Regions from separate parts of the Homo sapiens genome. Here regions 1 and 3 are each linked to region 2. Evidence: fine-mapped expression QTL. A gene starts in region 2. Each other region holds a variant in brackets. All regions are shown on one strand. Distances are from middle to middle.

Region 1 (10,881 bases), 24 kb before region 2:
GTATCTCCTCAGTTATGAAAAGCTGGAAATTGCTATTAAATTCGACCTTAACCCAAACCTAATGAGGAAATACAACCATCATGTTAATATAGACTTGAGGTTAATTTTAGGCCCACTGTTTGAAATACATTTCATTTCCTAACACTGTTTTGCTTTGGTTAGTTATTCTGTGTTTTGTAAATACTGAGATCAGGCAGAGTAGAAATGATAACTAGGGAACATCCTGGAAAGTGCAATTTAAGACAGTTAGCAATTGCTCATTCTAAAATAAGTGTGTTGAGATAATACCTTAAAAAATTGGTTTTTCTGTCTTAAGGAATACATAAAGATGGAGCTATTTTCAAAATTAGAGTGATCTAGAAATTTCTCAAACATTGTAGAAATAGATTAGTTTATAACTGCTGGGGTGGATATATCAAGCTTCCTAGCCACTCCATCCACATTCAGTAGAGGCAGTAATAAGATAATAAACATATTTTGTTTTTCTGAAGTAGTAGTGTTAATTTTTAGATTGGTAATTTTTAGATTGAGTAAAAAATAACCTAATGTATTTCTTGTAATCAAGGTCACATCATGCTTGAATTTGGCCTAATCAAGCCTACCACAAGCCTTGACCATTTTTTCTTAATGTGTGTTGATAAACATGTTGAATTTATTTGTTCTTTTATACCAAGTACATGAAAATAAATACAAGAGCATTTGAAGTATCTAATTAATATGCTTATGGCAATTTTACATAGGTAATGATACTATCATTAAAATTTTCTAGTAAAGGGGAGATTGTTTTTGGTAAGGAAGTGCTTTTAAACAGTATAATGGAATTATGTACTTAAACGAATTTTTCTCTTTTACAGTGTGAAAGCCTATAGGAAAAACGTTTTGGCAAAATGTGTATGTATCTAGTTGTATTTATTCTACTTTATAACTTTTATGGGCTTTAAATCAAAGGGGGCATAAACTTATTGATTTCCATTGTTGGTTTTTATACATTCTTTGTTTCCAAGTTCCCTTTTTGAATAGGTAAATTTCAGCTTGACCATGGCAACCTGTTCATTTTGCCCATATCTTTTAAGTATTTTTTCATCTTATTTATAAAAATTTACAAAAATATTTATTAAAATTGTTCTTATATGTAATACTAAGGAAGATTTTTACAACAGTTATTTCTATGATCTGGGTAACATGTTTTCTTGATCTAACATATAATGAAAGATTTTGAAAACAATGGCTTTATCTTACAGTTGAAGTCTACCTCTCCTGACATTGTTTTGCCAGTTTGCTGTTATTCAGCTGTTAAAAAATTATTCTTGCACCAGCTCGGTGGCTCACAACTGTAATCCCAGCACCTTGGGAGGCCAAGATGGGCAGATCACTTGAGGCTAGGAGTTCCGAGACCAGCCTGGCCAACATGGTGAAACCGCAGCTTTACTGAAAATACAAAAATTAGCCAGGCGTGGTGGTGCATGCCTGTGATCTCAGTTACTCGGGAGGGTGCAGCATGAGAATTGCTTGAGCTCAGGAGGCGGAGGTTACAGTGAGCAGAGATCCTGCCATTGTACTCCAGCCTGGGTGAGAGGGAAACTCTATCTCAAAAAAAGAAAAATTATTCTTAAATATCGTGAGAGTTGAATGATCAATTCTTTCTCCAAAGGCACATTTATTCCTATGTGATTAAGAGTTACCTATATTAGACTGTGGCTTTCTAGTCAAAATTCCAAGCCTAGAATCAGTAAGGAGATTGATAATTCTTCCTTGACATGCATATTATTATACTAGGTTTCCTTGGGAATCTTCACCTCCATCCAGATTAAATCCTGTATCATTCTTTGAGAAGACAGTAAAATTAGATCTGCTAGGAAGATTAGAGAGATGTCTGCCTTATGGATAATAATTTGGTATGGTTGTTAAGGTTGTACTGATGCCGCTGTAATCATATGATTGTTTCTCTTTAGAGTGACTTAGACTTCCAATGTTTTAAAATATTTTTCAGTATGGTGGTGATATTACCCGAAAAATGAAGCTTTTGAAGAGACAAGCAGAAGGGAAAAAAAAGCTGAGGAAAATTGGCAACGTTGAAGTTCCAAAAGATGCTTTTATAAAAGTTCTGAAAACACAATCTTCTAAATAATTGGTGGGAAAACAAAGAATTTTCATTGCAATTTGTAATATGCTGACAACAGAAAGAAAATTATAAAATTTGCTTGTTACTTTCAGGGTATTCAGGTTCAAATAACCTACTAGTCTTTCGTTGAAAGGGAGTAGTTAGTGGGTAGGCAAGAGCTTAGATTTTGAAGCCATGTTGCCTGTTCTCAAATATCTGTTCCAACCACTCACTAGTAAGGTGACCGTGGCCAGATTAACCTTTGTTTCCTCTTCAGTAAAATCGAGATTATACTACTACCTACATAAGTTGTTGTTGTGAAGATTAAATGAGGTAATACGTTAAATATTCAGAGGTGCAAGACACATAGTAAGCACTCAATTGTAACTACAGTTAAGTCCTTAAATGCCATCGAAAGGTTCTTAGAAACTGACTTTAAGCAAAATGACACGTAGCACAATGTTCTTGAATGATGTCATTTCCTTAAGTGGTTTGTAACATCGATGAGGAAAAAAAATTGGTTTATGCGTCATTTCATTTTATTTTTATTTATTTTTTGAGACAGAGTCTTGCCCTGTCGCCCAGGCTGGAGTGCAATGGCACAATCTCGACTCACTGCAACCTCTGCCTCCTGGGTTCAAGAGATTCTCCTGCCTCAGCCTCCATTACAGGCGTGCACCACCATGCTCGGCTAATTTTTTGTATCTTTAGTAGAGTCGGGGTTTCACCATGTTGGCCAGGCTGGTCTTGAACTCCTGACCTCGTGATCCACCCACCGTGGCCTCCCAAAGTGCTGATTACAGGTGTGAGCCACCATGCCCAGCCATGTCATTTCATTTAAAGTCACAATTTCCATGAATCTCAACAAGTGAGGACCTGCTATATTTTGTTGCATGCAGTTTTTCTTTACGGACACTAAAAGGCCCCATACTTAAGATTCCATCTACTTTAAGTTTAAAGGATTTTCAGAATCACCTTAAGTGTCAAATTTGTTAGCAGGATTAATTGATATGAATTCACTTATTAAACAGTAAACTCAAATAACATAGACATCAAATAACAGACATCTGCTCTAGTTAATGATAAAATGTTTATAGATTTTATCAGGTGGTTAGTTTGAAACTAAATGGTTTACATCTAAATTAAGGGCAGGAGCTGTCTTTCAGACATTCAAAACGCATTTGTGTAAAATGACAGGTGTTTGGTATTACCAGGAACTCATAATGACATTTTAATAATTATTGTCTAAATTTCATAATCGAAGCGATTTTAGAGTAGTTAACTTGAGATTTCACAGCCAGTAAATGGCTGTATTTCTCCAGAGCTCTCAGCTCCCATGTTTATTCAGCCAACGAACAAACCAGACTGCAGACTGTATTAGAGCAAGACAACATCATTTAGCCATTGATTTTTATCTTCTACCTTGAATGAATTGAATGAAGAAAATGTCTTTTAGGGATAAACACTATCAAGGATGAATTTTATACTAAGGTTATATGAAAGAAAAATCTCAAAACCACTAAGCCAAAGGGAAGTCAAGCTGGGAACTGATTGAGGCAAACCTGCCTCCCATTTTATTCCTAAATAAGACAGCCACAAAGATAAAATTTGCTCACAAGGGAATTCCTTATGGACAAAGAACTCAAAGTCTTCACATGAAACAAATGCATAAATGATTGCTTTCTCTGTTTCATGTTTCACTAAGCCAGATTAAGGTATAACTGACTATTCCTCTACTCTCCTCTCACATGTAAATTGTATATTCAGTGAAAGGCTAATCAGAAACTCAAAAAAATGCAACCCTTTCTCTCTTACCTGCCTATGCTTGAAGCCCCCGCCCCTCTTCAAGTTGTCCTGCCTTTCAAGACCAATGTACACCTTACACATACTGATTGATGTCTCATGTCTCTCTAAAATGTGTAAAACCAAGCTGTGCCCCAACCACCTTGGGCACATGTGGTGAGGACCTCCTGAGGCTGTGTCATGGGCACACCTTAACCCTGGGAAAATAAACTTTCTAAACTGACTTGAGAGCTGTCTCAGATATT[T/C]TGAGCTTACAGTTATTGTGAAATCATTTTAATTATAAATTAAGTGGAGATTTACTTAAAATCATGTGTAGAAGTAGCCTGTGATATAGTCCTAGATACATACATTATCATCTTATGTATCTTCCCTCCCTCTTCCAGGTTCTGATAAAAACAGATGAAATCTGAAAGACCATGACAGTAGTATTTTGAAAATGACAGTATTTGAAATTAAAAAATTGTAAAAGTGTTCTGTTCTATCACTGCCAAAGGATAAGTTACAAATTGGTTCTTGGAACGTAATATGTACTATGTGCTTGCTATTTAATAATTTACCAGTCTTAGTCTTTTTTATTCAGACTAATTTTACCTTTTTTTAACCTATGACTCTTTAGTTATAGTAGTACAAAAAAGTAGTTTTAGTTATAGTTTTAGTTGTAGTACAAAAAAGCATTTTCTGTAAGCTTAATTTCTTTCCCCTTCCCGCTTTCCCAGTCAGATGACTTTAGTGATTTGGAGTTGTGTGCTTTATAAGTGCATTCCTCAGAGGACTTAATATTACTAAGATTTTAGCAAACACTGAAATATGTTTAAACACTGTTATCAATATTAAAATAGCACCGTTTATTGACTTTAATATGTGACAACCACTGTGCTGAGCTATGTATGCTTCCCTTATTCAATCTATGTAAAAATTTTGGGGAAGTAGCTGAGACTTTTTTATTTCCCTGACAGAGCTGGGATTCAGTGGTTGGTTTCTTGAAAAAGCTAGGTTCTTTGCCTAACAGCAGCTTAGCTCCTCAATTTAGGGAATGAAAGCAGGAATGAAAATGGCCAGAGTTTTCGCTCCTCAGCTTGTGGAGGAGCTTGAGTACATGAACCTCAACTAAGCCCCTAACATCAAGGGAAGGAAAATGGAAAGGAGAATTTTTAGACCTTTAAAGCAGAGAAATTACTGGTGAATCATGTAGCACAACAGGTACCTTTAGCTTTTTCACTGTGATGCTGTATGACTTTCTAAGGTAGTCAGCATAGTTTGTAGTAAATGATTCTTATTACTGGAAGTGTAAGTGGAGTGTTACTCACTAGTTATTTAAAAAACATTTATAAGGCTATTAAAACATCATCTGGAATTAAAGCAGCATAATTTACCCCATCCCCCACTTTTAACCATAAAACCCTATTACCAATTTTATTTCATTAATTTATTTGCTATTTTAATATTTTAAGAAACTACATTTTAATCACATAGACAAGCAGATAAGTAAGGCTTCTTCTACCAGGTGGGCTTATGAAATGCAAAATAAGCAAAAGGAGCATTTTTTTGCTCCCCACAGAGGCAAAGACATCTTTTAACCTAACTCTCCTAATGCATGATGGTAACAAACCCAAAATGAATGCAGGTTCACATGTACTATAATTGTTGGGAGTCGAATGCATGTATTCTTCAGGTTCACTTCTGGAAATTTAGATAACTTATTTATTACACGCTTTATTTGAGTTAAAGATAAAAAACAATATACTTTTATGTAAATTGCTATGGCAATGTAGTTTACAGTAATTCCTTTTATATATACTTCGTATTATTCTTTTAGACATTTTATAAGGAATAAAGCTAATTGTATATTAAGTTTAACAATAATCAGAAAATATTCTCCAAAAGAATTTCCTGAAGTGGCTTGCTAGGTATAAAGCTCATAATTGTCAAGATACTTATATTAGGGACATGAACCCAAGTCGTTAAATAAAAATAAGATATTTGTAAAAAAGTGCTATAGAAGAAGGTGCACAAAAAACATGCACTTACACATACTTTCCAAAAGGATGTAAACTGTACTTTTAGGCACTGTCATCTCTTCAAATTTCCTTTACCAATGATATATAGCACAATTTTTGATGTCTAGATGGTGCTGTAGGAAGATGACTAAGGCAACCACGTGCAGAAAAGCATGTGTGTGATGCACAGAAAATATAAAGATTGCATTCCAAAAGTGAAGGTCTGCAATGATAGTTTGTTATCTGAAAGGTTTGGAGTGTCTTGTCATTAAAAAATGAAATATACGCCACTGGAGTCATATCACAAATGGTGCCTGATGTGGACACTCTACCTTTAAAATGACTTTTTAAACAGGCAGACATTTCTATGCTGTTTTATAGGTGGCTATGTGACTTCAGTACTTTATAATAAATAGCCAGTCAATCTTGAGAGCCAGCTACTTCTCTTAAACCCAAGTACAAGATATAAATATTCAAAATATGGAATGTTTAACATAGAGACTCGAATGAAAAAATGACAATCTTCAAAATTCCCCATGTTTTGTCATATTGCATAGCTGAAAATTCATCTACTACTTAGTAAAAAGTGCTCTGTTCATTCAAGCTGAATTTTGCTCCAGTCTCCTTCAGTTTCCATCTTTCATACTGAATAGTGGATCCACAAGTTTATTGTGCACATGCATTAGACCTTAAAGAAAAAAAGCACAGTTCTAGTTGTTTTTATTAATTTTGAACTATCTCATTTACTTTAGACAACAAAGTATTTTTTATAAGACACAGTAAGCCTGTTTAGTTCCCATCTTGATATAGTCAAGTTTATTGAAAAAGTACAAATAGAAATGTTTCAGAATGTCTTAAGTTTTATCTACCTAGCAAATACCAATTTATAATTATGTAACAGTGCAGATCTAGAATGTGTACAGGTACTTTGGGAGTAACCAGAAGAGCATTTCTTGTCTTCAAAGAGATTAAGCATGACAAATTTGAATACTGACTTAGATAATAGGTTTTAATTATATCTAAAAGTCTATGTTGATATTGATCCTCTGGCAGTTCCTCTACTAGACTCCAGCCAGGGGCTCAGAACTGCTGTCTCACTCTTAATACATTACCCTATCCATTCGTCTGGTAAATTACTTTCCAATAGTTTGGCATGTGTATTTATGACAAAGGTTGATTACAAATTCTACACTGAGGGAGGGTTACTAAAACAAGACAGAAAACAACCTGTATTAAATCATTTAATTCAGAATAGAAATTACGATTTTAAATCCGGTAGATTATAACTTTCATTTTGTAATTGGTACATATACTTGCAGACTGCTCTTAGCTATGGAAGCTGCTTGGGAAATAGCTGATCTTCCAGTTACTCCTGTTTTAATGCCTCAGTACTATATTTCTTTGGGGAGAAAAAAGTTCTAAAAAGACTGACCCAGTTAATGAACCAGAGATTTTATATTTTGGAGGGTAAAGAAATGAGTTAAGTTTTCCAGGTATTAAGAACATGGGAGGGTGGGGAAAGGCACTTAATGCGGTTTTGCAGGAAATGGGATTACTGGATTGGAGAGATAGGTTGCTTGTTAGTAAACAGATGTTCCTTGTCAGAAAGGCTGCAAAAAGGACTCTAAAATCCCAGCTTTGAGAAAGACCCACTTTTAAGGGACAAGCAAAGAGTACTGGGAAGTGTTTGTGTAGTAGGAGAAATTCTAACCATAAGAATGGGACTCTAAAGGAGGGAAGGGGGAAGCATTCCATTCACTAGTCCTGCAACTGCTCAACAGCCTACTTGAAGGTCACCTGAAACTTCATGTCCAGTAGGAGAGGGGACAACAAAGATAAGGGTAATATCAGCTGTATGATTTAGAAGATGCAACATTTTCCAGAGTATCACTTTGTAGAGGATCGTTTTTCTACTTAAATAGTATTCATCTGTCATTTGCTAACAACTTTGATTACGGAAAGAATACACAGAGCTTTAAAATACATGCAAATTAAAATATCAGTAAATATTAAAAATTCAACTCCTTTATAAAATTTTTTTCTTTACATTGGATATATCTTTTATACATCAAATAGGACTGCTTCCAAACTAGAAATAATTATTTTGAAAATTCTATTAATTGCTTTTTAGATATTAAGTCAAATATTTACTGTGACTTTAGGTAAAAACTGACAACTTTCTACATACGAATTTTATATAAATAAATAATTGCTACTTAAGTCAAACAGAAATAATTCTTCTGATAAAAATGCACCAGACTTCCTGAAACGTTACCAGAAGAAAGGTTAAATGTCACAGATTCTAACCAATGTCTATACAAAGTAACTTTTATGGTTTTGACTCAAAATGAACTCATTCTACCTTTGTCAAACTACTGAGGTGGAGCCTAAATACAAAGTAAGAGAAAAAAATTCATGATGATGATGTCATATACTAAAAATCAAAGCTGTTCTATTTAAAAAGCAAAAATGAAAAGCGAGAATGAATAAAACAAATCCCCACGTACTAAACTTGTTGTCTTGTGATTAACTTGTATCTTTCAAAAGGTATATACCGTTATATAGGTATATATTGAAATAAACTTGCATTTACTGACAATTTTTATTGTTTTGGATCTAGTTAACCTAGATCTTATCTAGGCACTAAATAAAACCCTTTAAGATTCTGGTCAGCACTTTTTAGTGATGACAGAAGAAAGGGTAGTGATGTGAATGGAATTTGAAGAGTTATGGATGACAATTATAGGAATTTACATCCTCCAGTATTTTGATATACTAGTAACTCAATGGAGGTATGAAAAGTATACAAACTACATTTGAAATGTGTTTATTTAAGAATATTCAATTTCTCTACCCTTTACTAAAATGCTGTAAAATGAGGCCCATATGTAGCCCAGAATGTCTAAATTCTGTCTTCATATTGAAGGAGGTATCCTAACAGGCTGATACCCTGAAACCTCTTCAGAAATACAGACAGCTCCAAAGTGGAAAATACTGTGTCCTCTTGATGCAGTGCAGCTATCCTCTCACGAATGGTCTGTTTCAAAATTTTTCAGAAGAGCTTACAATTAGATGAACTAAAAGAACTAAATACATATAAACATCTACCACCCTTCTATTTTAAATTATCTAACATATGTCGATATACCTTTTTTGGAAGCAGTGATTATCATATGGGAAAAAAGCAGATGGAAATATGGTTTTGATGTAGATGGTATCATACCTAGAGTTTATTCTGGGAGGCAGTATAATAGAATAGACAAAAGCCTGCATACTCCAGAGATCAGCCTGATTTTGATTTCTATTACCCAGCTCTGCCCAAATATGTGCTGTATGACTTTGGGTAAGTAGCTTAACGTCTCTGTCTGTTAAGCCTATTAATTTAAAAATGGGACTATGAATACCCATTTCATAACATTTTTGTGATAAGTAAATCAATAAGTAAAATGCATTTAGAATAGTGCCTGGTCATAGAGATACTGGCTGTTATTAAATATCTTATTAAATATTCACCAAGATATAAAAATCTGATAAAAACCTAATTGTGACAAAATTAGATTAGTACAGGGATTTATCTGGGACTTAATGAGGACTAGAAAATGGCCATGTTAAATGAATCTCCTTAAAACTGGAATTAAAATTTGTGGATAGTGAGGATTCCTTGTAGTCAAGGAATCTATTATTTGGGATGAAATCTGAAGGGTTACATGGGAAAATAGAGTTAAAACTCCATCAAATGCTCTTTTATTCACAAATCAGAAATTTTTCAGTTTTTCAGTTTTTCAGTTTGATATATTTGTGGCTTGGTAAATTAGTAATTTAAATGGTAAAAATATAAATGACTAGAAATAATCTAAGTGTTAATAAGGAAATGTTTAAATAAATTATGATTTATGTACTTAACTATCCATTAAAATGCTTCCAAATATTTAGTAAAACAGGAAAATGCTCATGAAACATAAGTACAAATACAAAACTATATACAAAGCATGATCAGCATTTTGTTTAAAAATAGACTATTTTCAGTGCTTGCCAAATGTCAGTTATTTGTATAACACCTTCAAGATATTTGCCATATTCACACATATACATGAAATATGAGTTGGTTTTCTTTGCATTGAATTAAAAATTTAAGATTATATACTTTATTTCTGAGTATGAGATGCTATAAATTGTAAGACACACCATTTTATGTACCACTGAGAAAAAAATGCTACCCAGTAAGCTATGATCTGACACCAGTTTTAAGACACAGTCCAACATCAGCAAGATCAACGTGTATTAGAGCCAATCAAATATGGTAGCTTTTTTGGACCTTGTCTTAAGCAATAATATCCAAAAAATATAGCTTTGATTTATTCAGTGTATTTTCCAATAGGCATTAAAATAAATACCTAGTTACTAGAGTAAAAAAGATTAAAAGGTATAATCATGTAGCAAAAGTAGCATACATACTACATAGTGAATCACTGACCTATCTATATGATCAACTATGTAACTTTTAATATCAGCTATGTAAATACAGGTGCTTTATGAAAATTACCTGTTTGTACAGTTTGCTTACATATGTGTAATATGTGGAGCTGACTCTTAAATCAGAGAATAGGTTCTACATTGGGTATAGGCAAAATGTCCCTTGAAAATCTCTTAAAACCATTATATCAAGCATATGTGTTTTGTAATACACAGCCTGGTAGAGTAAGGTTTCTGAATTACTGAACTAGACTACAGGAAAAAGGAAAATCAACATGAAGTCTGGGCAATCAAACTCCTGCTTACTTGCAGAGTTTATTCCATACTATTTTAACATTTAGACATTATAACTTTAATATATGGGAATAAATTGGCTTAAAATTGTAAAGATTAAATTAGATAGTGGGAGATCTCTTATCCACTGATTAGGTTCTAAATTAAGGTTAGAGGGGAGTGAGGAAGAGGGATTGAGGTGGGACTAGTAAACATGAAAAGAAATCCAGAATG
Region 2 (10,881 bases):
TTACTGTTTTTTTCTGCATCATAATTAACACAATGTTATTAACAGAGGTAGGCTGAGTGTAATGAAGGGTAACAGTATAGAAACTATACAGAAACCACGTTCAACCCCAAGGGGTCACATATCAGAACTGAGGGTGCTGGGGGTGTAGTACTGGTGTGTCCAGTGAAAAAAAAAAAACCCTTTTGCCATTCTCACCAAGATCTACTGCCCTGGACCAAAAGAGAAAAAGCAAAACAAAACAATCAACTTGAAGAGTACCATTCACGGAAATTACTCAAGTGGGAAAAAATTACAATTGTAGTTTTTATGTAATTACCATGTATGAGGGGAGGAGCTGGAGAAAACAGTCTGTTTAAATAAAACACACGGGAACTATAAATTTATAGACTACAGTATACAAGGGACTTACACATACACTATCTTAGCTGAATCTCAAAACAGCATCTTAAGTTATTATCCTTATCTTTCTTATAGGTAAGGAAACCAAGGCTCAGGGGTATAGAACAAATGCCTTGTAGTCAATAAGGAGCAACTTTAGTTCCAGGTCTAACACTCTGTGAAAATCATGGGTCAAATAAAGTGCCATAAGATCAAATGACACCACCTAGTCGTTTTTTAAGAGAATGCTTAATGGAAAACTGAATTCAATAAAATATGTAATTACTGTGATGAAGATATATTTTTCACTTGTAATACATCTATAATAGAAGAAGCAAATAGTAAAAGGCTAATAAACATTATATAATATATAATTTATAACTTCTATATTAATAAGGATTTATAAGGCAGGTGAAGTTAAATTAAGAGGCAACAGTACATACCTTAGGTACCTCTTAATGATTAATAAGAAAGCCAATCAACTAAAAACTGGTATGAATGGTAAAAGCAATGTTCCCCAAAACAAAGGACTACTAGAAAAATGTACAAAAAATATGAACAACACTTAAGTTACAATATTTCCTATTGCATTTTGGAGTGACAGGTGAGACTAAATTTTGGCACAAGAACTAGTAACACATTGTAGATAGTAGATTTTATATATATGCATTTTTCTGGCCTTTTATACTATGATGTTCAATTAGTGACATGCCAATAAATGAATGGGGAAAGTATCTTAAAAGAAACCCTTCAATTCCATCAGAATTAAATTTAGATAATATCAGAATATAAAATGGAAAAAGTAGTTAATTACCTGTTGGTAAACCCAGTGTAAAATATCTGTCCTGTCCAGGTTTGAACTGAATGATGCGATTACAGATGTATTTGGCTGCCCATTCACTAGCCAAGTCATAGTTATCAAGAATTACAAGCCTCATTACGGTGACGCACAGCTTCCAGAACAAGTTCAAACCTGAGAAAAGTCCATTGTAGAACACTTTACATAATAAACAGATAATTTAAATTCAGTAACTTTTTAAAAGATGTAAATAATAAATAGAGCACTGAAACAGAATATACTGATGATTTTTAAAAGTACATTACTGAAGAAGGACATGCACATATACAATCTGAATTTAAAAAATAGTAATAGCTGTTCTCTTTTGAGCAGACACTGAGTTTAAGGCAGTGGGCTAGGTCATTTAAGTATAGTTAGCCTTCTGTGGATTCCATATTCGAGGATTCAGCCAACCAAGAACTGAAAATATTTAGGGGAAAAAGATGTTTGCATCTGTATTAAACAGGTACAGACTTTTTTTTGTCATTATTCCCTAAACAATACAGTATAACAACTATTTACACAGTATTTACATTGTATTAGGTATTATAAGTAATCTAGAGATAAAGTATATGGGAGTATGGGTGCAGGTGATATGCAAGTACTATGTCATACAATATGAGGGACTTAAGCATCTGTGGATTTTGGTATCTGAAGGGGGATCCTAGAATCAATCCCCAACAGATACTAGGGACAAGTGTACATATTTTAATCCTTACAACCATCTTGTGAAGTAAATAAAATGCCCAGTTATAGATGAGGAAATGGACTCACATAATTTGACTAAGGTCACACAGGTAGTAAGCAACAAGGTCAGAATTCAAATTATAACAATAGGATCACACTAGACATGTTATTTTTAATAAGAGAATTCAACAGAAGAAAAAGAAAACAAAGTGAACTAAATAAACTGCTCATCTCTGGAGGAGAAATTTCTTGACAAAAAGCAATTTTAGTTCCTCAAAAATTATTCTAAAATTAAGAAAAATTATTATACGTATATTAAGAGATCGGAGTCACTTAAAAGCTACATAATTCCATTTTACACAATGTAGGTTGACTTATACCATGAAAGATGTGGAAATCAGCATTCTTACAGTAACTCACAGCTTCTGTTATCTGTAAGACATATTGTTTTCCTTTTTTTTAAAAAAATGGTATAAATTTAAGGGGTACAAATGCAATTTTGTTACATGGATATATTATTTAGTGACTAGGTCTGGGGTTTTGGTGTATCTATCACCTGAATAATGTACAATGATCCTAGCAATTTCTCATCATCTACCCACTCCTACTCCCCAACCCTTCTAAGCCTCTAATATCAGTCTACTTTCCATCACCACGTGTACACATTATTTAACTCCCACTTGTAAGTGAGAACATGTGGTATTTTTCTTTCTATTTGGGAGTTGTTTCACTTAAGATGATGGCCTCCAGTTACTGCAAAGGACATGATTTCATTTTCAATGGCTGAATTTCGCGGTGTATATATATACCACATTTTCTTTATCCAATCATTCACTGATGGACACTCAGGTTGATTTCTTATCTTTGCTACTGTTGTTATTGGAAGGAAGGTCATGAGTGTGAGGTGTCCAGTTCCTTGGCATTTTGAACAAAGAACTGCACAAAAGGAACGAAACACAGGAATGAAGCAGCGAAAGCAGGGATACTGAAGCAAGAAAGCACCCCATGGGGTGGGAGTGGGCCCAAGCAAGCGGCTCAAGGGTCCGGTTACAAAGTTTTCTGGGTTTTAATACTCCTTTTGAGGTCCCTTATCGGTTACCCCTTATCTGCATGAAGGATTTGGTCCGTGGCTAATTAAAGGCTGAGGTGAATTGGCTCCCTATGCAGATGAAGGGATGGCCCATGCTTAGTCCACGGACAATCCAAGGCACTTTCCCCTTCCATCTGAGAGGTGGTGGAAGGCAGTCGATCGTAGGGAGAGTAGCCTTTGGTCCTTTGCTACTTGGGCATGGGGAGATGGGTTTTTTCCTTTTGGTCTAGCTTTAGGAAGTTTGCGTTAATTGGTTAACTGGCTTTAGGTTACCTGCCCCCAGACGCAGGTGTTTTCTCTTTTAGGAAGTCAGCACAAATTGGCCTTAGATTTCCTGCCCCCAGACCTTGGTGTTTTCCTTTGATTTAGCTTTAGGAAGTCAGCACGAATTGGCCTTAAGTCCTCTGCCTCCAGACCCTATTCTACTGCCTCACTGTGAATAGTGCTGAGATAAAAATGAATGCGGGTATCTTTTTGATATAATGAATTATTTTCCTTCGGGTAGATACCCAGTAGTGAGATTGCCTGATCAAATGGTAGTTCTATTTTCAGTTCTTTGAGAAATCTTCATACTTTTTTCTACAGAAGTTGAACTGACATTACCATCAATAGTTTATAAACGTCCCCTTATAACATTTACTGAACATTCTGTAATAATTCCCATAATTCTTAGATTTTTAATTCTTATTTTTATATTAAATGGATCAGTCACCAATACCAAGCTTTTTATAACATGGTTTCAGCATTCCTGAGTTTTGTACCCACACACTTTACATAGAGTAATAAGTCAAATTTTCTAAATTAATGAGATTAAAAGGTCTTATTAAAATAAATGTATGGAATCTAAATGTCTTTAAGAAGGTAACAGTTTCGAATTCTGACACAACAACAAAAAATCATGGTCACCATGATCTAGAATTCTGGCCCGATAACAATTATTTATTTACAGAAAATAAATTACATAGTAAGTCATAAATTCAGTCCAACAACTGGACTCAGCCTCCACTTAAATATAATCCATAATCTAATGTCAAAAACAATTTTAGAGTTAAACCAAAGAATCAGAAAGAATTATTGGCTGTAATGAACATCAAAAGATATATTTACTTCTAACAAGAATATATGGCCAGCTGATTGTTAATAAAACGGAAAAAAAATAAGGTAAGGAGGACGAGAAGCATTAGAGCTTTCCAATGTCTTCTGCATCCTGGGCATGTTATTTTTCTCAGTTCAACACACGTTTGAAGACCTATTATATTCTAAGCACTATGCTAGGTTCTGTAGACACAAAAATGATTAACTCTATTGTCAAAGGGCTTAGAATCACTTGTCTCTGAGGTTGAAAGCATTATTCTCACTCTTCATATACAGAAAACTGCAACTACGAGAAGTTTATTGCTGACGTTAAAAAGTGGCCCGGGGAGCTGGCTTTAAAACTAAGTGTTTCTGACTCAAAGAGACATTAGCCAAAGATGTCTTACCGGTTGAGAATCACTTACGATGCTAGTTAAAAATACAGATTCTCAGGTCCCTCTCCCTAGACACAGTGTTTCAAAAGATCTGAAATGAAGTCCAAGGAATCTCTGCTTTTGCAAATTATCACAGGGGATATTCATAATCAGGTGAAATTTGTTAAGAACACCACACATCTCACTGAAACGAAGTTTAAGCAAGTCTCTCAGACCAAGGTACAGGCAACTTTTTGTTTTCTTAAACTCTCTGGAGGGCGCAGAGTCACCTCCAAAAGTCCCAAATGAATCCCTTCACCCAGAGCAAAGAAGAATTTCTTCACCACATTTAAGTTTTTAAGATTTGACTTTTCCAGTTTTTGCCAATCCTCAGAGATCCAAACTATTGTCGCCTTATGCAATTCTCTGGCATCACAAGACAGCATCAAAAAACAACAGAGCACCACCCTTTCCCTCGTCTTCCTTCAGGTGCTGATTCATTTTGGATGTGCATCGCTAGGAAAAAGGGCTGCTGAATATAAATCGCAAAACTTCAATGGTGGATGACAACTTCTACACCCGTGAAGTTACACAGCTAGTTAATGGCGGGGCCAAGACCAGAATCTACACTTGCAGAACCTCTGCTCTGAGCTTTTCCCTACTCAACCTGACCTGTCCTGAAAGCGTAAGGGTGGCCTGGCCGCGCGTGTGGGACCGACCCGAGGAGGGACGAGAGACAGCAAAGAAGGCTGTGGTTCCTGCCCGGGAGGCGGGGGCTGCAGATTCCCCTCAGCTGCGCGTTTGCCTGGCCCTCACTTGGCAAAGGACAGCGAATGCAAATGAGGATGACTGTTAGGAATTTTTAACGAGTGTAGAGAGAGGTGTCAAGAAGAAGCCGCGAGAGAGGAGAGGGCAGGGACGCCTTCTCCCGTAGGCACAAATCCGGAGAGGACAACCAGGTCCGCGAGTGGCAATACGGGAGACCCCACGCGCCCCCAGCCTCGAGGTTCCTGAGCACCCATTCCGCCCCGGCCCGGCGTCCCAGTCTCAGCACAAAGGCCGCACAGGGCGAAGTTGCCGTCGGGTCCCCCGACCCGAGTCCCCTTCTTGGCGCCCCCGCCGCACCCCCCGCTAAACTTACCGGCAGACCCAATGGTTCTTCGATGCTGGAACAGCGGGAACAAGCAACACCCAACCACCCGAGAGCGACCCCAGCTGACCAGTGGAGCGCGAATCCCACGGACCCGGATGCAGATAAAGGCGCAGGAAGGAACCGCGGCGTGGCTGGCGGGCGCTGCGCATGCGCACCGCCTTTAGGACGCCTGAGGTGAGACGCGAGGAGTTCGGTCCGAGTGCGGTGCGGCTGGGCGCTCTTCTTGCCTGGAAGATCGCAGTTTCTGGGTCATCACTTTACGCTACTTTCCCCTCCCCCCCATCTTTCAAAGAGGGATTTGCAGTAGATTCTTTAGGCTTATGAGATTTAGTATGTAAGACCGTAGTGCTCACACGTACTTTGTTGCTTATGTTGCTGTTTGGCAACATGAATATATTTGCCATTTATGAATACATTTCTCTCTCTACTCCAAGCTATTGAATGCATATTTGCAAACGCAATGACAGATAAGCGTCTTGTGTCAAAAAACTCATCAAAGTTTGCAAAAGGGCAAACAGTACCATGGGAAATCGGGAGCGTCTCAGTAAGAGAAAACACTATATAATAGGGTACTGGCTTTTGCTGAATGAGTCTAAGAAAGGGATAGGGGAAGCTGGAATCAGCTTTGAGCTGGGTATCACAGATGTTTATACAGGAGTGGGAAGGAATTGGGCTGTGGAAATTATTGTAAAGAAAGCAGCTATCATTCAAAAGGAGAAAAGTGTGTTGTGTCTTCACCATGTTCCATCAGGAACACTGTTCCATTAATAACACCGTTTAGGGTTCTGTTAGGAACAATACAATCTTGACTCCTAGCCAACTTAAGGTTCTGTTTCTGTGGAAACTACAAGTTAAAAAAATGTAAAACGCTGTGTCCTCAAACTCGTTATATGAAGTTTTTCACCTGGGTTGTAAATCCAGCCTGCTTCTTTGAATGTAATGACTCCTCTTGCATCCTTTAGTGAAGAGTAGGATGTTACATTCTCGTTGATTTAGCTTCAAACAGCAACATTGCTCACATACTGATAATAGACAGGTTTATTAGTACTATCGCCTTCAGTAAGTTTGCAAAAGCGATTTTTGGCCAGATTCGGTGACTCACGCCTGTAATCCCAGCACTTTCAGAGGTCATGGTGCATGGATGGCTTGAACCCAGGAGTTGGAGACCAGCCTGGGCAACATAGCAAGACCCTGTCTCTCCAAAAAAGATTGAGGTAAAATGATGAAGTAGTTTGTAGGCTATGCATAGAATTTAGGCTTTGTATTGTAGGCAATAGGGAGTCACTTAAGCTTTATGAATTGAAGATAAGAGACTAGAACATACGTGTTTTAGAAAGAATGCTGTAGAAAGGTGGAGACTGAATTACAGTCTTGAATTACAGATATGTGCCACATAAGGAAGTTTAGGTAAAGAATGGACTGGATATTTGGCAATGGTCCCATAAGATTATAACAGAACTGAAAAATTCCTATCACCTAGCGACATTGTAGTAAACGTAAAGTTGTAGAGCAACACCACTCGTGTTTGTGGCTACATAGGTGTAAACCTACTGTGCTTCCAGTCTCATAAAAGTCTAGCACATACAATTATGTACAGGATATAATACTTGATAATAAATGACTATGTTACTGGTATATGTATTTGCTATATTATACTCTTTATCATTATTTTAGAGTGTATTCATTCTATTTCTATTTTTATTTTTATTTATTTGTTTATTTTTTTGAGACAGAGTCTCGCACTGTCACCCAGGCTGGAGTGCAATGGCACAATCTTGGCTCACTGCAACCTCTGCCTCCTGAGTTCAAGCAATTCTCCTGCCTCAGCCTCCTGAGTAGCTGGGATTACAGGCAGCTGCCACCACGCCCGTCTAATTTTGTTTTATTTTTAGTAGAGACGGGGTTTCACTTATTAGCCACGCTGGTCTCGAACTCCTGACCTCGTGATCTGCCTGCCTCGGCCTCCCAAAGTGCTGGGATTATAGGCGTGAGCCACCATGCTTGGCCCTATTTATATTTTTAAAAGTTAACTATAAAACAGCCTCAAGGAGGTCTTTCAGGAGGTATTCCAGAAGAAGGCATTGTTATTATAGATGAGAGCTCCATGTGCATTATTGCCCTGATGAACTTCCAGTGGGATAAGATGTGAAAGTGAAAGACAGGGAGATTGATAATCCTGACCTTGTGTAGGCCTAGGCTAACATGTGTGTTTGTGTCTTCATTTTAACAAAAAAATTTGAATAGGAAAAAAATTAAAAATAGATTTTAAAATAAAAAAACTTATAGAATAAGGATATAAAGAAACAAAATATTTTTGGACAGCTCTCCAATGTGTGTTTTAACCTTAACGTTGTTACTAGAGTCAAAAAGTTTTTTTTTTTTCTGAGACAGAGTCTCACTCTGTTGTCCAGGCTGGAATGCAGTGTCGCAATCTTGGCTGACTGCAAACTCTACCTCCCAGATTCAAGCAATTCTCCTGCCTCGGCCTCCCGAGTAGCTGGGACTACAGGCGCATGCCACCACACCCGGCTAATTTTTTGTGTTTTTAGTAGAGACGGGGTTTCACTGTGTTAGCCAGGATGGTCTCGATCTCCGGACCCCATGGTCCCCCCTCCTCAGCCTCCTATAGTGCTGGGATTACAGGCGTGAGCCACCACTCCCGGCCAAAAAGTTTTTTAAAAATTTAAATATAAAGTAAGAAAGCTACAGGAAATTAAATTTACTATTGAAGAAAAAAAACATCGTTTTATAAATTTAGTGTAGCCTAACTCTACATTGTTTATAAAATCTACAGTAGTGTACAGTAATGTCCTAGGTCTTCACATTCACTCACCACTCATTCACTGACTTACCCAGAGCACCCTCCAGTCCTGCAAGCTCCTTTCATGGTAAATGTCCTATACAGGTGTACTGTTAATATTTTTTAATTTTTATACTTTTTTTTTTACTATACCTTTTCTTTGTTTAGATATGCAAATATATACCATTGTGTTACATTGCTTACCGTATTCAGTAATATGCTGTACAGGTTTGTAGTCTAGGAGCAATAGGCTATACCATATATGTGTAGTTTGTGTATATATGCTAGGTTTGTGTGCATATACTGTATAACATTCACACTATAATGAAATCGTCTGAAGATGCATTTCTCAGAATGTATCCCCATAATTAAGTGATGCATGACTGTATGTTATGAAGACTCCAACACGGAACGACTCTGAGTGTACCTTGTATTTTTCCTACCCAGCCTTGGTATCAGGCATTTCACTAATAGCTGATAGTTGTTTTATTAATCAACAATGGATGTTGAATTTTGTCAAACACTTTCTATGTATCTATTGAAATGGTTGTATGGTTTTCCACTCTAATATGTTGGTGAATTCAATGTTGAGTGCACTTTTATTGCTGGAGAAAATTAGATTTGGTCATTGTTTTTCTTGGTCAGGGTCTTTCTTATACATTTATTGTTGGGTTCAATGTTCTAAAATTTTGTTTAAAAATTTTACACCTATGTGTATGAGGGATATCAGTCCATAGTTTTTTTGTTTATTAGTTTTTTTTTGTGTGTGAAGTCTTTGTCTAGTTTTAGTATCATAGTAATAACAAACTTATAAATTGAGTGGGAAAATTTCCCTCTTCAATGTTTTGGAATAATTTGTGTTGAATTATAGTAACATAATGTATTCTTTAAATACTTGATAGAATTCACTAGAGAAGCCGTACGTACATAGAGTTTTCTTTTTTGAAAAAATTTAACTATAAATCCAATTTCCTGAATAAATACAGGATTATTCAGGTTATCTATTACATAATTTTCATCGAGATGTAATTCACATACTATAAACTCAGGCTTTTAAAGTATACAGTTCAGTGACTTTCAGTATACTCACAATGATATGTAACCATCACCACTATCTAATTCTGTTTTTCTATTTCTATCCCCCACCCCACATCAAAAGAGACCTCATCACCTGTTAGCAGTCACTTCCAATTCTCCCTCCCCTACCTGATTTCCTGGCAACCACTAGTATACTTCCTCTCTCTGTGGATTTGCCTATTCTAGATATTTCATATAAATGGAATCCATATGTGGCCTTTTTTTGTCTTGTTTCTTTCACTTTGCACCATATTTTCTAGCTCCATCCATGTTGTACTTCATTACATTTTATTGCAGAGTAATATTCCATTGTGTTGATATACCACATTTTGTTTATCTACTTGCTAGTTAATAGACATTTGGATTGTTTCCTGCTGCTATGAGCATTTAAACAAAAGTTTTTGTGTGAACATTTATTTTCAATTCTCTTGGATATATACCTGGAAGTGGAATTCCTCAGCCATATGGTAACTAGATGATTAACTTTTTGAAGAGCTGCCAAACTGTTTTCACAGCAACTGTACCATTTCATATTCCACCAAAAATGCATGAGGATTAAAAATTTCTCACACCCTTGCCAACACTTGTTATTTTCTATCTTTTTTATTATAGTGATTCTAGTGGATATGAAATGATTCGAATATGCGTTTCTCTAAAGACTTATGATGTTGAGCGTCTTTTCATGTGATAATTGCACTTTTGATATCTTATTTGGAGAACTGTCTATTCAAATCATTTCTTGATTTTTAAATTGGGCTATTTGTTTTTTATTGTTGAATTATAAGAGGTTTTCATATATTCTCAATAGTAGAGCCATATCAGATATATGATTTAGAAATATTTCCCTATTTTATGATTTATCTTTTCAGTTTCTTGATACTGTCCTTGGAAGGAAAAACATTTTTTTAATTTGATGAAGTCCAGTTTATCTACTTTTTCTTCAGATGTCATGATTTTGATGTGCTAGCTATGTAACTAGAAAAATTTGGGCTTGTATTTTGTGTCTTTTTTCCTTTTATTTTTCCAGTTATTCATTTTTATCATATTTTACAAAAGCACTGGTTTGTGACAAATTGAAAATTTAAAAAAAATATATCCTTCACCACAGATAGCTTGATAAGCGCTGTTTTTGAGAACTATCCTGTTTACACTGGCTAACATTTAGGGTATGTCTGTGGCCCTACACAGTGGCCAAAACAGGGTGCCAAGGGAACGGGGGTGGAAGGGATCAGTCAGGGCACAGGTCATGAGCAGCTGCTGTGGGAGCTGTTCCCTTAACCAGGGAGGAAAGGGAAGCGGTGACTTCAAATCTTAAAATTCTCAAGGTCAGGAAGATTCACACCTATGATCTGTTATAAAAGTTTTGTAGTTTTATCTTTTACATTTAAGTCTTTGAGTTAATTTTTATAT
Region 3 (10,079 bases), 56 kb before region 2:
AATTTTATTATTACATATGTTTGATTGTTTTTGACTGGGGAAATAAGAAGTTTTGGGTTATAAATAGTTTCTGGCATTGTTTTATTGCTTAAGTATGTTATGTAGCTTTAAATATAGCAAAACTAGCTTAAAATCTTTTTTTCTTTCCATTGCATCAGTGTTTCTATATAAAAATCTATTGCTGAGAATGTTTTTAGGCTGTGAATTTTAGGCTGTGGATATCACACTGTGGTTTTCACAGAATAATATTAATAGTTTTACTGACAGTCTTTATTGGAAAGGTTGTTTTCTACCTGTGATAGGCAGGTTCCGATGTGGTCACCAATAATCCCAGCATCCTGGTATTCATGCTCTTGTGTGATCCCCTCCCCTTAAGCATAGTCTTGATTACTTGATTTTAACCAATAAAATATGGAAAAGATAATGGGATGCCATTTCTGTGATTAAATGAAAAATATTATGACTTCTATATTGTTAGCAGACTCTATTGCCTTTGTGGCTTGCACACTTTGATGAAGCAAGCTAAAATATGGGAGAGACCCAGGTGGCATGGAAATAAGGGAGGCCTCACTTTCTACCCAACCCATTTCTCACGGATGGGTAGAAAATGAGGTCCTCAGTCCATCAGACCACAGGATCTGAATACAGCCCCAAATCACTGAATGAGCATGGAAAAGAATCCTTTCTCAGTTGTGTCTTCAGATGAGACTGTGGATCTTTGTCTGATATCTCAATTGCAGCCTTGTGATAGGTTGTATAGCAGAGAACCCAGTTCAGCCATGCCCAGTTTCCTGACCCAAAGAAACTATAAGATAAAAAATGTGTGCTGTTCTGTAGTAGTAGGTAACTAATACAATAACTCGTCAGTAAAACTGACAAACTTAAATATGTCTTGACACCAAAATCTTTTAAAAAACTAATTAAATGTATAAGATCTTATCCTCACATATGTCATGTCAACATGGTGCAATTCTCATTTTCTAAGAAAACCAGATAATTTACCTGACAAGACAAACCTGTAGCCATTCTAATGTCTTCTCTTGATGTATTATGCTCATGCTATTTCTCTCTAAATCATCTATTATGACAAAGAAGGAAAATGGGAGACATTACATCCATATAACAAAACTTAACATGGTACCAGAGGGCCTCCAGCTCATCTTTTTCCAAGGGGAAAACATCATCAAATTTTTCCACTAAGATAGCCATCAAGTTTTGTCACAGAGATTTCCCTAATAATAACTTCTGTAAACTTGTAGGCTAGCATTGTATTTCTGTTATAATGTAAGCTCTCTTATTCCTGCTGTGTGACCTATGGCAATTTACTTAGTTTCTCTGCATGTCAGTTTTCTAAGCAATAAAATTATATTTTTGGATTATATGGTATATAAGGACACCCCCTATATCTACTGAAATATTTCAAGTACTGTAAGCGTACCTAAAAATATTTATATTTTTAACATGGCCACAGCAGAAGCTTCTGATGGGAGACATTATCTGTGTTGCAAAGCTGCTTGGTATACTGCCTAAATGTGCCAAAAATTTCTGCTAAGACATTTTATTGCAAACTCGAATCTACTAGATTCTGCAGGGATTCTTTTGAATAAATCCTTTTAGGCCTTAAAAAGAAAAGTTCTCTTTTTTTTCATGTTCCTAGTGCAACATTAAAAGTGTTTATTTCTCATATTCTTTATTCAACATGTTACAATTCCCTTCCTTGTGAGCATAAATAAATATTAAATTCCACAACTGCCATAGAGAAACAAGCACAAACGGAAATGATGTTTTTCTAAGATAATTCACTTTCAAATGAATGAATACTACTGTGAGGTGTTTAATAAATCTAAAACTAGTGACAAAAATAGGAGGAATTATTAGAGAAAAAAATTGATCAGTACTATGCAAATAATGACTCACATAAGAATACAAAATGTCAGAGAAGCAAAAAATAACACAGGTAAGAAATAGATGCTAAAGTAATTTTTTAAAAAGACAAAGTCACAGGAAAATTAATTTCCTTATTTTCCTTGGCATTGTGCACTTAGAAATGTACTCTTCCGGGTTGCTTAAGAATCCTTTAATCCTTGTAATGGACATTTATTGCTACTCAATATCCAATCCACCTTCTCATTTCCTGTCAGCACCCAGTTTTCCTTTTGGGGAACACCCTGCCGACATTGTGTAAGAGCCCCGGGGCTCACATCAGAATTTCTTCCATAATGCTACTAGTAGATCCAGATCAACACCTCAAAAAAAGATTATTTCACTAATTGTGAAAACTGATGCTCTCTCCCTGTATCTCAATAAGAAAAAACAGTGTTTCAATTGCTTCTGACACGCATTTTTTAAGGATGTAAGATAAAAATAAACCAAATATGGAGGAAGGCAGAACCAATGGACTATCAGAGAAACAGACCTGTGATCCTGATAAATCCAAGGCTTAAAGAGACTTGGCAGTGATATAAGCCAATAGAACTGCTTGTTTAGACCAGGTTAAGCTGTATAATTGTAACTTAAAGTTTATAATACACCTTCCTGTAAAAACATAGCTAACAACCAAAGCATCTCCCTCCACCAAGAGATAGAGTGACTCACTCCATTACCTAGGCTAGAGTGCAGCGGCACAATCAGAGCTCACTGAAGCTCTGAACTCCTGGTCTCAAGGAATCCTCTTGCCTCTGCCTTCCAAATCACTGGGATTACAGGCATGAGCCACTGCACCCCACAGCCTCCAAAGTGTCTTTAATTGATGCCTTTTATTTAGCTATTGTTGTATATGTTGGGTCAGGATATTTTTCAATTTAAACACTTCTAATCTTATCCTTCCTAGTATTTTATTGTGATAAAAATCACACATTAATACTATAATATTTTATTTTTAATAGTGAAATCTATCAAAACTCTTAATGATGTGCTCCTAAAGGAAATACCGATGCTCCACGACATAGCCTTCTGAAGAAGACACACCTTTGAAAGATGTATGAGTGAATATGTGTGTTCCCAAATATATGACAGTACAAAGGCCACGGCCATTGCCTGGGCATTGCCTTGGGGTTTATGAAAGTTACCTGACGGGTGGAAAAATAGCCAAGCCTTTCCTGTGTGATATACTTTGGTTCATGAGTAGCATATCATTTCTCCAGGTTAAAGACTTTAAGCTAAGGCATCAAACAAGTTTCTGTACATGCCAAAGAGCAAAAGGAAGGATGCCAGAGACAAGTCATTTTCAGTTATGACTAACTTCCTGAATCAGTAAGATTCACTAAAGAATTGGAGAACAATAAACTTTGCTTTGAGATTTTTGTTTTAGAATAATATAACAACAAGCTTAGAAAGTAGTTGAATTGGTCTTCATCTGACAAGAATGACACAAGTCTCCACAGTGCAAAACTAAACAAAATATTCCCTCTCCCCTGCCCTGCTTAATTTTTTTAACTAATAGATGATAATGGAGGCATAATGGAAACCAGGAATCAGATGATACATTTCAAGTGTGAAATGCAAAAATTTTCTTTACTCTGGGTTTGTAATATGCAATTGCTTTTTTCATATTCTATATTAAGGCAGGATAAATTTACCATCCAGTCAAATTCATTTCTTCTGCAGACACAGTATCACTGTCCCCATGTAGGTTGCCATCATTTATCTCTTGAAACTAATTTATTCCCTGCCTCCAAGCAGCTGTGAAAATGATCTAAATGAGACACAAAATTGCTACGCTACTCCTCTGTGTAAAATCTTTCTAACCTTGCAGTGGCTACAATTACCAGGAACATGAAATCCAAGCTCCTCGTTCCCTGGTCTGGTTCCTAATTTCTTTTTCAACTTCACTTCTTGCCAAACTCTAAATTCCTGCAACCTAAAAGTGCTGGCTGTTTCCTGCATATATCATGCCTCTGCTCACGTAGGATCTTCCATCTAGAACGTCACACCTTACTTTCATCTCAGCCTGGTTGAATCTGACTTATCCTTTGCCCCCAAGTTAGGGACATAACTCTGTGGTCAAGGGAATAGTTTTCAAATCTGCCAGAGTGGTGTTTAAATGCCCCTTCACTACATACGACCTGCATGAACTCAGTCAAGTTATTCAACCGGCCCAAGCTCAATTGCCCTATCTGTAAAACAGGGGCAATAATACTTATTTATAATGTTGTTTTGAGGATTAATTGAGATATTTACAAAGTGCTTAGAAGAGCACCTGGCACATAGCAAGTTCTTTATTAATGTGTATAACTAAGTATTATTGTCACCCACCATGCAAAGACTTTCCTGATACCACCACTATCTGGCTGTAGAAGAGGCCTCTTCTCTGTTCCTTTATAATACTTTATTGAAAATTCTATCATAAAAATTATAACATTGTAATATGATTATCTTTTATAAAATGGCTTTTTAAATTTATCATAAATTCTCTCAGTACTACAACCATACCTATTTCATTTTTGCATTCCCATGGCTTAATATAGTGTCTGACATGTAGTAAACATCCAGCTAATATTTATTGAATGATTAATAAATGATATTCTGTCCCCAGCCAAATCTTATCTTGAGGTATAATCACCATAATCCCCATCTGTAAAGGGAGAGACCAGGTGGAGGTGATTGAATCATGGAGGCAGTTTCCCCCGTGCCATTCTCTTGAGAGTGAGTGAGTTCTCACGAGATCTTATGGTTTTATAAGGGGCTCTTCCCTTTTCACTCTTTCACTCAGTACTTCTCCTTCTTGACGCCTTGTGAAGAAGGTGCCTTGCTTTCCCTTTGCCTTCTTCCATAACTGTAAGTTGTCTGAGGTCTCCTCAGCCATGCTGAACTGTGAGTCAATTAAATTTCTTTCCTTTATAAATTACCCAATCTCAGCAGTTCTTTATAACAGTATGAAAATGGACTAATACATTAATCAATGAACGCAAATTTCTCAGAATAAAATAAATATATGTACATAAGTTGTTACAGATAGTCATTGCTACACACACACACACAAAAACACATCAAAATTTACTGAATTTAAACAAGGAGACATTTATCTTTTTCAGAAATCTGCAATTTGGGCTGTGCTGATGGGGAGAGCTCTTCCCTGCTCTGCTTGGCAAAATCTGTGGTAGCTCAGAAACTAAATGCTGGAATCATGTGAAGTCTTGCTGAGTCCATATGTCTGGTGGTTGTTGCTGGGTGTCACCTTAGCAAAAGGCATATAATTAAGGCCACTTGTTAGTTGACTTTAAAATAGGGAGATGATCTGAGTGCCTTAATCTAACCACATGAATCTTTTTAAAACAGAAAATTTTCTCTGGCTGGTGGCTGAAGGCAGAAGAAGTGAGATATTTGAAGCTCAGTGGGGATTTGATGTACCATGGCTAGCTTTAAGATGGAGAGGGCCACGTGCCAAAGAATGTGAGTAGCGCTAGGAGATGAGAGCTGCCCCCTGATGACAGCCAGCTAGGAAATGTGTATCTCAGTGCTACACGGAATTGAATTCTGCCAGCAGCCTGAATGAACTCAGAAGTAGATACTACCCTAGAGGTTCCACGTAAAAGTCCAGCCTGACTAGATCCCAGATTTCAGCCTTGTGAAATACTAAGCAGAGAATCCAAATGAACCATGCTGTACTTATGCCCTACATAACTGTGAACTAATAAATCTGTATTGTTTGAGGTGCTGCATTTGTGGCAATTAGTTACAAAGCAATAGAAAACTAAAACAATGGAGTTTCTGGGGACAGCATTCAGAAAAGAAATATTGCTATGACCATTTAAGAACTACCAATAAGTATCTATTCAGAGTATTTGGGTTGGTAATGTTTTTGCTTGAACATAAATACTTTAAAAGTAATTATCATTAAAAGTCTTTGGATTTAAGGCTAATTTTAAGGTAATTTTTACAAATTACCATAAATTATGATACAAAGTCTCAGGCTGATTCATTTTTGAGGCTCTGAAAGAGGAGATTCGTCCAGATTCTTAACCAGGATCAAGATTTAGACAGAAGGCTACTGACCTTGGGCCTGCCGGGAGGTCAACTCTTAGATGCTGTTGTGGTTAAACTCTGTCCCCACCAGAAAGATATGTTGAAGTCTTAATGCCCAGTACCTCAGAATGTGACCTTATATGAAAATGGGGTCTTTACAGGGATAACCATGTTAAAATGAGGTCATTAGGTTGGGCCCTAATTTAATATTACTGGTATTTTATAAAAACGGAAATTTTGAACACAGAGACATGCACAGACAGAAGACTATGTTAAGAGACACAGGGAGAACACCATATGGCAGAGACTGGATTGATGCAGCTACAAGCCAAGAAATGCCATAGACTGCCAGGAAACAAGCAGAAGCTAGTAGGGGGCAATGGAACAGATTCTCTATCCTGGTTCCCAGTAAAAACCAACCTTGCCAATTGAACTCTAGCCTCCAGAACTATAAAATAATGATTTCCGTTGTTTAAGCCACTCAGTTTGCGGAAGCCCTAGAAAACTAATACAGATGGCAAAAGGAAGTGGGCTGCTTCAGCAAGAAATATCTTAAAAAGTATAAGTTGTTTTGAACTTAAGAAATGCGCAAAGACTGAGTTTTGAGGAAAATGGCAGAAAAAGCCAAAATTGCCTTGAAGAGATTGTTGGTAAAAAATATGGATGTTAAAGGAGAGTCTGTGGAGAGCTCATAAAGAGTAAACCTGGAGAGAAAGCTTCTATCATCTTAGATCATACATCATCATGAACAATGTTGCTAGAAATATAAATGTTAAAGGTGGTGGGGTATCAGACAAAAATGAGGATCATTTTATTGGAAACTGGAGAATAGGTGATCCATGTTAATGGAAACTGAAGAAAAGGTGACAGAGAATTTGGTTGAATTGTGTTCTATAGAGTGGAAAGAACTTATTCATGATGAACTTGGATATTTAACTGAGGAGAATTTTAAGCAAAGTATTGAAGGTGCAGCCTGGTTTCTCCTTGTTGTTTATAGTAAAACAAGAGAGGTAAAAGATAAACTAAAGAAGGAATCCTGCCTGAGTTTTCCTGTAGATTTTGAATTCCCTGCAGATTTTGGACTCAAGAGTGCAACATCAACATTTATCTGAATTTTTAGGCTGCCATCCTGGTCTACAAATTTCTTGCTTGCTAGCTTCCACAGTTGTGTGAGTCAATTATTTAAAATCTCAAATGTGATCTCTTTCTCTCTGTCTCCATATGCATGTACATGCCATGCATGGCTATATATGTGTGTGTGTGTAAATATTTATATATACACACATTATAGATATATATATACATTTTGTGTGTATGTGTGTGTGAATAGCCAGTATATATACCTAGCATGTCAGACAGTGTGTGACGCACCTTGAATAAGTAATGTGAGAAGCCATTGTAACCAGTATATCTAGCTTAGGTAGACTGGAGAATAACATTGCTGTTAGGATGTTTTTAATATTCAGTATCTCATAGGTAGTTATAAATCGAGTTTAGGGAAAATAATTCAGGGCTAGAGTTCTGGAAACCATCTGTAAACAATTTTTTAAAAAACTGTGGTACTAGATAACTTTTTGAAATCAGAGGGTAGGAAATAAAGTTGTTGAGAAAAGAAGAGAGAAGAACTCAATACACTTGAGGGTACCCTTTTGTGAAACATGCCTTGAGGAAACAGAATAGCCTATATGGATTTGTACTTATATTTTTCAAAAATTATCTCTAAGCATCTATATTAGTCAATGCTCTCCAGAAAAACAGATGATGACTCCAGCCTCCTTGAGTTTCAGTCTGGGAAAGCTCAAAGTTGCCAAAAGAATCTGTTTGTTCCAGCCAACACCTTATTTTGGTGCTAATATTTTACAGTTCTTCTCTAATGCTGACTAATCTCCCTTTTTAATCAAAAGAAATCCAACTCTAAATGAATCACATTTTTTATTCATTATGCTGATACTGTTAGTTTTTAACAGGTTATTATGTTGTTTCGATTTATATTAATCATA[T/C]AAAGTTTTCTATTTAAAAATTCATTTACATATAAAAGGTAAGTTAATTTAAAAAATATTAAGTATATAAGAGAAATAGGAAGATTGACAAAATACTTTTCCTGACTAACTATAGCCAGGTTCCTCTGAGCCCATTTACTGGCAAAGTCTCCACCTTGGGCTATAAAAACTACAGACTCTCAGCACAACTGATTTCATCCACATCCTCCCCCCTCCCACCCATACACACATATCAAAAGACTTGAACAAACACTAATATAGTTTCTAACAGCTCAAGGTTGCATTCTTAAGATGAAATTTGGAGTTATCCTGGCCTTCTCTCTCTCTCTACATCAAATTAATTTTGTTAAATTTGTCTCCAAAATGCCACTAATCATCTCTTCATTCTCTGCCACTGATTTACCCAGGACTCTACTGTGTCTTACCTAGATTATTATTATTATTATTACTTTTTGAGACGGAGTCTAGCTGTGTTGCCCAGGCTGGAGTGCAGTGGCGCAATCTCAGCTCACTGCAAGCTCCGCCTCCTGAGTTCACGTCATTCTCCTGCCTCAGCCTCCCGAGTAGCTGGGACTACAGCGCCCGCCACGATGCCTGGCTAATTTTTAGTGTTTTTAGTAGAGACGAGGTTTCACCGTGTTAGCCACGATGGTCTCGATCTCCTGACCTCGTGATCCACCCGCCTCGGCCTTCCAAAGTGCTGGGATTACAGGCGTGAGCCACCGCGCCCGGCCTGTCTTACCTAGATTATTAAAATAAAAAACTCTCTTTCCCTTTCATTCTCATCACCTCATTTGATTTCTTTTCATTTTACACATCGTTAGAGAAAGCCCCCTAGAGCAAAAAATTCTGTTATTTCCTTCCTTACGATGGTTTCTGCATAGATTAATGGTGAAATGCTAACTAGTACGTCCCTGTTCAAAGCCCTTCACAAAGTGATACAAACTCTTCTTTCTATGATTCCTCCTCTACCCTATACACTTTCTATTTTGTGATATGAAAATATTTCTAAAGATCAAATTTTTATGCTCAAAATTTGAAAAAATATAAAAGTCTAAAAAACTTAGAATAATTTAAAAATGGGCCTCAAAAGTGAATTGAAAGATGTATTTTATACTGTAGACACATGGTGGCACCATTTTAGCAGCCTAGCAGCAATACTAGAGAACCTTTGTTAATATTGTGTGATTATGCTCTAAAATTGTGCAAGCGCTTTAAATGGCTAATGTGATACTACTTTAATCATTTATTAATGGTATTTTTAGTGCTAGAAATGCTCCACAATATCAATAACTTTGAAACAGAATTTAGAGGTGATAGTTATTTATACATTGTTTTTATTACTCTTTTGTTATGGGCTGAATTGTGTCAACACTTCCATGTTTATATGTTGATGTTCAAACCCCCAATATCTCAGAATGAGACTGTATTTAGAGATAGGGTCTTTAATGAAATAATTAATTTAAAATTATTAGGATTGGCCCAAATCAAATATGACTAGAGTCTTGATAAGAAAATTAGGACACAGACATGTATAGAGAGAAGACCCTGTAAGAACGCAGAAGGTACTGATCTGCAAGCCAAACAGAGAGGTCTCAGAAGAAACCAGCTGTGCTGATACATTGATCTCAAACTCTTAGCCTCCAGAATTGTGAGAAAATAAATATCTATTGTTTAAGCCACCAAGTCAGTCTGTGGTATTTTGTTATGAAAGCCCTAGCAAACTCATATTCCTTTCGGTATATTTACAAATATAGAAACCATACAATAGTTGTGGATTAATGTACTATATGAGTGCAATCTCCATATTATATATTTATTTTTACAGAAAAACTGAGTCTTGATTTATGAGTTTGTAAATTATTTAAGCTCTTCAGAAGTCCTCGCCTCAAATAAAATGCTACTGTCCTGAATGTTGGCCCTGTTCTCTACTGACTATTAACCCAATTTATTGTGTGTTTTTCCGCATTTGTATCCTTGCTCAGCTGAGCCGAGTTTACTGGAGTGGTTAAGGGTGCAGGCTCTACAGCTGGACTGTGTGGACTCACAGCCCTAGTTCATCACTAACTGTGACTCTAGACAGTTATTTAAAAAACGTTGGCCACATTTTTCTTG

Alleles and levels. Alleles are on the strand shown, and positions count from the first base shown. SD is a standard deviation of normalised expression in the study named. Not every link is listed here.
As copies of C replace T in region 1, the expression in thyroid of the gene that starts at base 5,665 in region 2 goes up (moderate effect, 0.67 SD a copy in GTEx).

What was found.
Region 1: its variant is fine-mapped to the expression of GNPDA2 in thyroid (GTEx, PIP 0.95).
Region 3: its variant is fine-mapped to the expression of GNPDA2 in esophagus muscle (GTEx, PIP 0.93).

What each region holds. Positions count from the first base shown.
Region 1 is chr4:44,696,554-44,707,434 of GRCh38, forward strand. GUF1 (GTP binding elongation factor GUF1) reads left to right here. Exons shown (of 17, transcript NM_021927.3): 16 at 855-891; 17 at 1,991-4,375. The coding sequence ends at 2,128. It overlaps GNPDA2 (glucosamine-6-phosphate deaminase 2), which reads right to left. Exons shown (of 7, transcript NM_138335.3): 7 at 5,242-6,589. The coding sequence ends at 6,528. Among named protein-coding and RNA genes, the nearest start is that of GUF1, 24 kb to the left of the region's middle. The variant T/C (reference allele first, on the strand shown) is at 4,150.
Region 2 is chr4:44,720,892-44,731,772 of GRCh38, forward strand. GNPDA2 (glucosamine-6-phosphate deaminase 2) reads right to left here and starts at 5,665. Exons shown (of 7, transcript NM_138335.3): 1 at 5,583-5,665; 2 at 1,193-1,351. The coding sequence starts at 1,316. RefSeq lists a silencer at 5,081-5,375 and an enhancer at 5,868-5,997.
Region 3 is chr4:44,665,533-44,675,611 of GRCh38, forward strand. No RefSeq gene overlaps it. Among named protein-coding and RNA genes, the nearest start is that of GUF1, 7.8 kb to the right of the region's middle. The variant T/C (reference allele first, on the strand shown) is at 7,965.